2 separate regions of the Homo sapiens genome follow, and region 1 is linked to region 2. The links come from fine-mapping of genetic effects on gene expression. A gene starts in region 2. The other region holds a variant in brackets. All regions are shown on one strand. Distances are from middle to middle.

Region 1 (4,000 bases), 21 kb before region 2:
GAGACTTTCTTGAGCCCAGGAGTTCAAGGCTACAGTGAGCTATGATCATGCCACTGCCCTCCAGCCTAGGTGACAGAGCAAGACCCTATCTCTAAAAAGAAAAAAAAAAAAAAGGCTGGGCACTGTGGCTTATGCCTGTAATCCCAGCACTTTGGGAGGCCAAGGCGGGTGGATTACCTGAGGTAAGGAGTTGGAGACCTACCTGGCCAACTTGGTGAAACCTTGTCCTACTAAAAATAAAAAAAATTAGGCTGGGCGCAGTGGCTCATGCCTATAATCCCAGCACTTTGGGAGGTTGAGGCGGGTGGGTCACCTGAGGTCAGGAGTTTGAGGCCAGCCTGGCCAACATGGCGAAACCCCGTCTCTACTAAAAATACAAAAATTAACCAGGTGTGGTGCTGTGTGCCTGTAATCCCAGCTACTTGGGAGACTGAGGCAGGATAATTGCTTGAACCTGGGAAACGGAAGTTGGAATGAGCCGAGACTGAGCCACCGCACTCCAGCCGGGGCAACAGACTGAGACTCTGTCTCAAAAAAGAAAAGAAAAAAAAACTAGCTGGGCGTGGTTGCAGGTACCTGTAATCCCAGCTACTTAGGAGGCTGAGGCAAGAGAATTGCTTGAACTCGGGAGGCAGAGGTTGTAGTGAGTTGTGATTGCACCATTGCACTCCTGCCTGGGCAACAGAGCAAGAGTCCATCTCAAAAAAAAAGAAAAAAAAATTCAATGGCTTTTGCCAGCCTAATGACATCACCGGCCCGTGTCTACATCTTGAACCTCAACCCTGGTCCCCTACATTCCCACTACATTGATCCACCTCCCCAGACCATTTTCCTCCCACCCCTGACCAGGAGGCTCCCAGTCCCTAAAGGAGCTGTATGCTCTCACAGCAGATAGATGAGGTCACAGCACTGGGACACTAAACTGTAATTGCTTTTAGACTGCACCAAATTCTAGAGGTGTGGAGAGCACTGACCTAGTGTTCACAGTTACAGCCCTAGTGTAGCATAGTGCTTGGTATCTGGTAGGTAGGTGCTCAGTAAATAATGTTGAAGTGGCAGAAAAGGGCTATAAAGTGGTGGAAGGGTCAACAGGCAGGACCTCAGAAGTAAGGAAATGTAATGGCTCCTAATCATGAAAAATAGCCTAAAGCCTGGGAGCATCATTTTTTCCTGTATTTATTAATTAATTTTTTTTTTTTTTGAGACGGAGTCACTCTGTCGCCCAGGCTGGAGTGCAGTGGCGCAATCTCAGTTCACTGCAACTTCTGCTGCCCAGGTTCAAGCAATTCTCCTGCCCCAGCCTCCCGAGTAGCTGGGATTACAGGCACCTGCCACCAGGCTGAGCTAATTTTTGTAGTTTTAGTAAAGACAGGGTTTCACCATTTTGGCCAGGCTGGTCTCGAACTCCCGACCTCAGGTGGTCTCACTTCAGCCTCCCAAAGTGCTGGGATTACAGGCGTGAGCCACTGCTCCCGGCCTCCTGTATTTAATTTTTTAAATTTCATTTTCCATTAAGGACATTTAAGAATATCTATAAAAGCTGAACGCAGGCTGGGCACAGTGGCTCACACCTATAATTCCAGCACTTTGGGAGGCCGAGGCAAACGGATCACCTGGGGTTGGAAGTTTGGGACCAGCCTGACCAACACGGAGAAACCCCATCTCTACTAAAAAATAGACAATTAGCTGGGCATGGTGGCGCATGCTTGTACTCCCAGCTACTCAGGAGGCTGAGGCAGGAGAATCACTTTTGAACCTAGGAGGTGGAGATTGCCGTGAGCGAGATCCTGCCATTGCACTCCAGCCTGGGCAACAAGAGTGAAACTCCATCTCAAAAAAAAAGAGAAAAAAGCTAGGCACAGTGTCTCACGCCTGTAATCCCAACACTTTGGGAGGCTGAAGCGGGTGTATCACTTGAGGCCAGGAGTTGTAGACCAGTCTGACCAATGTGGTGAAACCCCGTCTCTACTAAAAATAGTCCCAGCTATTCGGGAGGCTGAAGCAGGAGAATCACTTGAACCCGGGGGTGGTGGAGGTTGCAGGGAGCCAAGATCATGCCACTGCACTCCAGCCTGGTCTACAGAACGGGACTCTGTCTT[T/TA]AAAAAAAAAAAAAAAAAAAAAAACTCCACAAAAGTAAGAGAATATAATAATCAACCACCAGCACCAGTCACTCGGCTTGAACAAGTATCAACATTTTGCCAAGCTTGTTTTATCTCTCCCTGGGGACATCTCTTTTGATTGTCTCCTTTAACCCTCCCAGGAGCGATTCATTAGCAAGTCAATGACTCAACTAACTGGTTTGCTGGTACTTGCCTGGGGCTAGGCAGTTGGGAGGGTTAGGGAAAAAAGTAGTTTGTAAAGGATTTTCACAGGTCCCTTCGACATCCTCTAAGCCCAATTTATTGGTTGGACTAGATCTGTGGCTACCTGGCAGGGTTCTGGGCCCCAATCCTTTACTGTAACAATGGTTGGGGATATACCACGTGCCAGGCCCGGGACTCTGTGCTGGGTATACAGTGGTAGAATGGGTACCTTCCCATTACTTCCTGGCTGTCAGGACTCCTTTCATATGCAGTTTCCTGAGGGAAGCCTTCCCAAAGCCCATACCGGGGCAGGGGCAGCAGTCCCCCTGGCGAGGGCTGTTGGGTGAGAAAGGAACCTGGTGCAGAGGCTGTAGTGGTCAGCTGTGGGGGAGGAGTGTCCTGGCCTAGCCCCCAGGGCAGCCAGGGATGTAGGAGCTGCTCTCCTCTGGCTCCAAAGCTAGCTGCCCTCTGATTCCTCCCACAGGCAACTTCTATTTTTCCCCATCTCAAGGCCTTTCATCTGTGTGTATGTTTTTTGAACTTCTGTGTAAGCTTTTTGGCTTAAATAAAGGGCTTGGCCTGCAAGGACAAGTAACCAGTAGGCTAAACCATTGGTTCCTAAGCCTGGGCGGCCAGACTTTCTGGGTAGCTGGTCTGAAAACACATTGCCAACTCCACCCCTCACCCCCACTAGATCAATAAAGCAGAGGGGGAAATCACTAACAGTTTTTAAAAATCTCTCCCAGGCTGGGTGTGGTTGCTCTGCCTGTAATCCCAGCACTTTGGGAGGCCAAAGCGGGCAGATCACTTGAGGTCAGGAGTTTGAGACCAGCCTGGCCAACACGGTGAAACCCTGTCTCTATTAAAAATACAAAAATTACTTGGGCATGTTGTCGTGTGCCTGTAATCCCAGGTACTTGGGAGGCTGAGGCAGGAGAACTGCTTGAACCCGAGAGGCGGAGGTTGCAGTGAACTGAGATCGCACCATTGCACTCCAGCCTGGGCAAAGAAGTGAGACTCCATTTCCCCCCCCCCAAAAAAAAAAATCTCCCCTAAGGTGATTCTAATACAGAGAGCTGCCTTCAAGAGCACCTGGATATGGTAGTCTCAGTGTGAATGGTGGTACCATGATGTTTGGGAAAGGCGCCTCAGTGCCTTTGCTTCCTTGACACAAAAATGAGAGGGTTTCTGCCTGCATTCATTAGCTGCTGCTCCCAGCATCACAGCCTTTGTCAGCCTCCTGGTGTTCCTCCCACCCCCATTTGCCACAGTGATTCCTCCCTTGTTCCTCAGCAGCCTCTCAGATAGAGCCCTGTTTTATGGTAGAGACCGGCTTTCCGGTTCCCAGCCTGTGTTTTGCCATATACATCACAGAGTTCACTTTGACCTTCTTCCTACCATCTCCCCAAGGACCTTGAGTGGAGACAAGTCACAGGTTCTTTTCCTGACTTAGGCACAGGCTGGGCAGCTGGAAGGGCTGCAGAAGGGGCACTGGCAGCCACTCAGTCCCCCCGCGTTGCCTTGCCCAGCCCCTCAGCTGTGCATTTTTCTGGGCTAAGAAGACAAAACAGACAGATGCTAGGCTGCCAAGTGATCTGGACAGGACAGTCTTGTGGGGGAGTGTGTGGAGGGGTGTTTTTCTGTTCTTGAACCCTCAGCCAAAGTGGGAAGTGCCTTTAGGGGCTAGGTGCCCACAC
Region 2 (4,000 bases):
GAGGTTTTTTGTTTGTTTTTTGTTTTGTTTTTGAGACCAAGTCTTGCTCTGTTGCCCAGGCTGGAGTGCAATGGCGCGATCTTGGCTCACTGCAACCTCCACCTCCCAGGTTCAAACAATTCTCATGCCTCGAGCCTCCTGAGAAGCTGGGATTACAGGTCCCCACCACCACGCCCGGCTAATTTTTTTTGCATTTTTAGTAGAGACGGGCTTTCAACCATGTTGGCCAGGCTGGTCTCGAACTCCTGACCTCAAGTGATCCACCGACCTCGGCCTTCCAAAGTGCTGGGATTATGGGAGTGAGCCACTGCGCCTGGCCTCCCTAGGGAGGTTCTATTACTCCTGAAAAGTGAAGAATTACAGGTGAATGTTGATAGGTATGCAAAAGATACTCTGACCTGTTTAAAAAAAAAAAAGATACTCTCAGCTTTAAAGTTTAACGGTTAAGAGCACAGATTCTGGAGTCAGACACACCCAGGTACCAGATACATTACTTGTCTTTATAAATCCACTGTCCAGAGGCCGGGTGAGGTGGCTCACGCCTGTAATCCTAGCACTTTGGGAGGCCAAGATGGGCGGATTGCCTGAGCTCAGGAGTTCGAGACCAGCCTGGGCAACATAGTGAAACCCCCGTCTCTACTAAAATACAAAAAAAACTAGTGGAGCGTGGTAGTGGGCGCCTGTGATCCCAGCTACGTGGGAGGCTGAGGCACGAGAATCGCTTGAACCCGGGAGGTGGAGGTTGCAGTGAGCAGAGACCGTGCCGTCTCAAAAAAAAAAAAAAAAAAAAATCCACTGTCCAGAAGGGATGTGCCTTGGTCTCTGGACTTACCAGCACAGTGAGCCTGGCACCACCTGGAGGGCCACCGGAAGGAGCCCCATCCCCAGGGGTTCTGAGTCAGTAGGCGTGGAATGGGGGCCGAGAACCTGCGCCTCTACCCAGTTCCCAGGCGATACGGCCGCTGCTGATCCGGAAGCTCACTTTGTGAACCACTGACGCAGCACATGGTGAGGACGCTGTATGTGAACACTCAGATATCCTGATACCTAACCCAATCCTTGTATTTGCCGCCCAGGAGTCCCCGGTTGGGTCCACCTTGCTATACGGCCTCAGAATCTCATTTCCTCTTTTGGGGTCTCAGGGCTCTCGTGTGCCAAAAGAGGGTGCTGGGCAAGATGAAATGGTTAGTTATTACAGAAGAGTTAACATCTTCAACAAGGCCCTACAGAACTTGCAGGGTTAGGGGAGAAAATAAGCGGGCTAAATCCTGTGGGGCAGCTTGGAGCTACCCTGGAGCAAGGTCTGGGCTCAGCAGGCGAGTAGGTCGCAAGGAAAGGTAGAGCCGCTCCTGCCCCACTCGCTGCTCGAGGGGCAGCTGTGGCCGACTGGGCGACGCTGACGTCCAGCCTCGGTTTTCCCCTACCTCCTCGGTCTCCACAGCGCCTCCTGGCGCCCATGTCACCGTTCTACCAAGATTGTCCCTCCCCTCACACCTTACCGCGAGCCCGGCGGATGCTGACGTCATTTCCGCCACGAGTAGCGCGCTTGCGCCAAGGCGCCGGTCGCTGTTTCACTCGGATGGCTTCGCGGTCGCCGATTGGCTGCGTGAGCACGTCGGCGGGAGGGCGCGCGACACTGCACCGCCCCTCCCTTCGCGGCGCCTGCTCTGTAGAGCCGGCGGAACCGGGTAGCTTGGCCAGGTTGTGAGGAACCGCAGCGCGCCGCAGGACCGGGCCGCTGAGCCTGCAGCCGCCCCGCGCCGTGACCTGCGACCCTAGACCCCGACTCCCTTTGGCTCAGCCCGCGCGCCCCAGGCCCGGCCCGGGCGGCGCGACGGGAGGATGAGCGGCGGGCGGCGGAAGGAGGAGCCGCCTCAGCCGCAGCTGGCCAACGGGGCCCTCAAAGTCTCCGTCTGGAGTAAGGTGCTGCGGAGCGACGCGGCCTGGGAGGATAAGGTACGGTGGAGTCTGAACAGGGCGCGGGTGCGAGGAGTCGGCTGGGACTCGGGGAACGGAAGACTGGCGCGGGCCTGCCCTCGTCCTCGTTCCGGCACAATCGAGTAGGGCAGTGGGGCGGGTGGCCCAAGGGTGTCAGAGCAAACTTGGCGGGCACTGGGCGGACAGCTGGGCTTGGAGCTCCCCGAAGGGTGGCCTAAGGATGAAGCCCCCTAGTTATGCGGAATTGGCGAGGAGCGGGGAGAGGCGTTGTCATTCGCGGGCAGGGTTTGTGCCTGAACTGGGAAAGGGAGCTGAATTCGATTCGGCCTCCGCCTTTTATGTGCAGTAGGGTTTTGAGTAGGTTACTTGTTTCTTTCGAATTAAGTAGCACAAACATTAACAGTAACAGACTTCTGCTGAGAATGCTTTCTACGTGCCAGGTGCTCTGCAAGCGGAATCTCGTTTAACTCAGAATAACTCTGAAGTGGGGTACTGTGGTACATTAAAGCCTTTTGCACATAGTGAGGCTCGCTAATCTTGAGCTGCTGTTGCTTGTTGAATGTAAAGGACCGAATACTTTGATAAGCATGAGTCAAGAGGGGAGACTGAGACCACCCGCTGGGTGAGTGTGAGGTGTGGGGGTGGAGAAACGCCACCAGATATGTGCGAGAATTGGTTGGGACTTCAGAACGTTCTTACTCGTCCCATTCGGAGGATGCTTCGTAACTCTGCTCCATGATCTGGAAGGGGCCATCACAAACAGCTTGATTCCAGGTAGCTTGAAAAGCGTATTATATTTGCAGTCATTTCTTGGTTTTCTGGGCTGCCGAAGTGGATTTTCCTTCCTGAAGTTCCTGTAAAGGGGGATGGGAGGCACTTCCTGAAGGTGCCCTTGTTCTGCCCCCAGCCCTGCCCAGCTCTTGCAAAACCTGCAGTCTCTAATCTGCTGTGTCATTTCTTTCTTTTCTTGTATAAGGACTGGTTTCTGGAATCTAGGGCAGATCAGAAACCTGAGTCGTCTGTGTTCTTCCATTAAACTTAAATATAGTGGCACCTGCCTCCAGCATTTATGGTTCTAATCCGTATGTGCGGCCAGTAGCACAATTATTATCACAGTCATTTCATTACAGGCCATATTATATATGCACCTCTAGAATTTTGATTTAGAGCACAGATTCTGGAAGTGATCGCTTAATGATGTCTAAATGTATCTTTTTTTTTTTTTTTTTTTGAGACGGAGTTTCACTCTTGTTGCCCTGCAACCTCCACCTCCCAGGTTCAAGCAATTCTCTTGCCTCAGCCTCCCAAGTAGCTGGGATTAAAGGCGCCCGCCACAACACCCGGCTAATTTTTTGTATTTTTAGTAGAGACAGGGTTTCACCATGTTGGCCGGGCTGGTCTTGAACTCCTGACATCAGGTGATCCACCCGCCTCGGCCTCCCAAAGTGCTGGGATTACAGGCTTCAGCCACCACGCCCAGCCCCTAAATGTATCATTTCTACCACATTTTAGTATAAGTAAGAGGTGAAACAGGAAGCACATACTGTTGCCTTTGGGGGGAAACAAATTTCCTGGATATGTTTAGCAGAAAGGTTTAATATTCTCCCCTTTTGCTGTCTTGTGGCACCCACTCCAGATAATTCTTGCATTTTCTGTCTTTTCTACAGGATGAATTTTTAGATGTGATCTACTGGTTCCGACAGATCATTGCTGTGGTCCTGGGTGTCATTTGGGGAGTTTTGCCATTACGAGGGTTCTTGGGAATAGCAGGGTAAGTCTTGGGTATCTTATATTTTCATGGTATCATTTCTTTTTAAATAGAGGCTTTTTTTCCTGTTACAGGAAAGGCCATTGCTGCTCTGGAGCTGTGTGTGTGTGTGATGACTAAAGCAAAGAAGCAGCCCTACAGTGGCACTCCTGGGTCTGGTGCACCACTCCTCAGGAGCATCTCAGGTCAGGCAGGTTACCTTCCTGCCTTCCTGAAGGCTGGGCCAGTCCATTCATTCATGGGTCTAAAGTGACCTCATGCAAGAGGCTATGACTACTTGTTCGTGGCATGCAC

Direction of the effects. Positions count from the first base shown, and alleles are read on the strand shown. Sizes are in standard deviations (SD) of each study's normalised expression.
With allele T in place of TA in region 1, the expression in B cells of the gene that starts at base 1,670 in region 2 is higher (moderate effect, 0.44 SD a copy in Fairfax 2012).

Evidence for each region. PIP is the estimated chance that this variant, and not a neighbour inherited with it, causes the effect.
Region 1: its variant is the best candidate, but not a certain one, in a credible set for the expression of RAB5IF in B cells (Fairfax 2012, PIP 0.61).

Annotation. Positions count from the first base shown.
Region 1 is chr20:36,583,366-36,587,365 of GRCh38, forward strand. All of the region lies in intron 2 of TGIF2 (TGFB induced factor homeobox 2), which reads left to right. The region is part of intron 2 of TGIF2-RAB5IF (TGIF2-RAB5IF readthrough); the gene reads left to right. Among named protein-coding and RNA genes, the nearest start is that of TGIF2-RAB5IF, 11 kb to the left of the region's middle. RefSeq lists an enhancer at 2,113-3,102. The variant T/TA (reference allele first, on the strand shown) is at 2,100.
Region 2 is chr20:36,604,110-36,608,109 of GRCh38, forward strand. RAB5IF (RAB5 interacting factor) reads left to right here and starts at 1,670. Exons shown (of 4, transcript NM_018840.5): 1 at 1,670-1,956; 2 at 3,606-3,709. The coding sequence starts at 1,843. It overlaps TGIF2-RAB5IF (TGIF2-RAB5IF readthrough), which reads left to right. Exons shown (of 5, transcript NM_001199535.2): 3 at 3,606-3,709. RefSeq lists enhancers at 544-593, 1,324-1,463, 2,815-4,000 and silencers at 585-984, 1,664-1,973.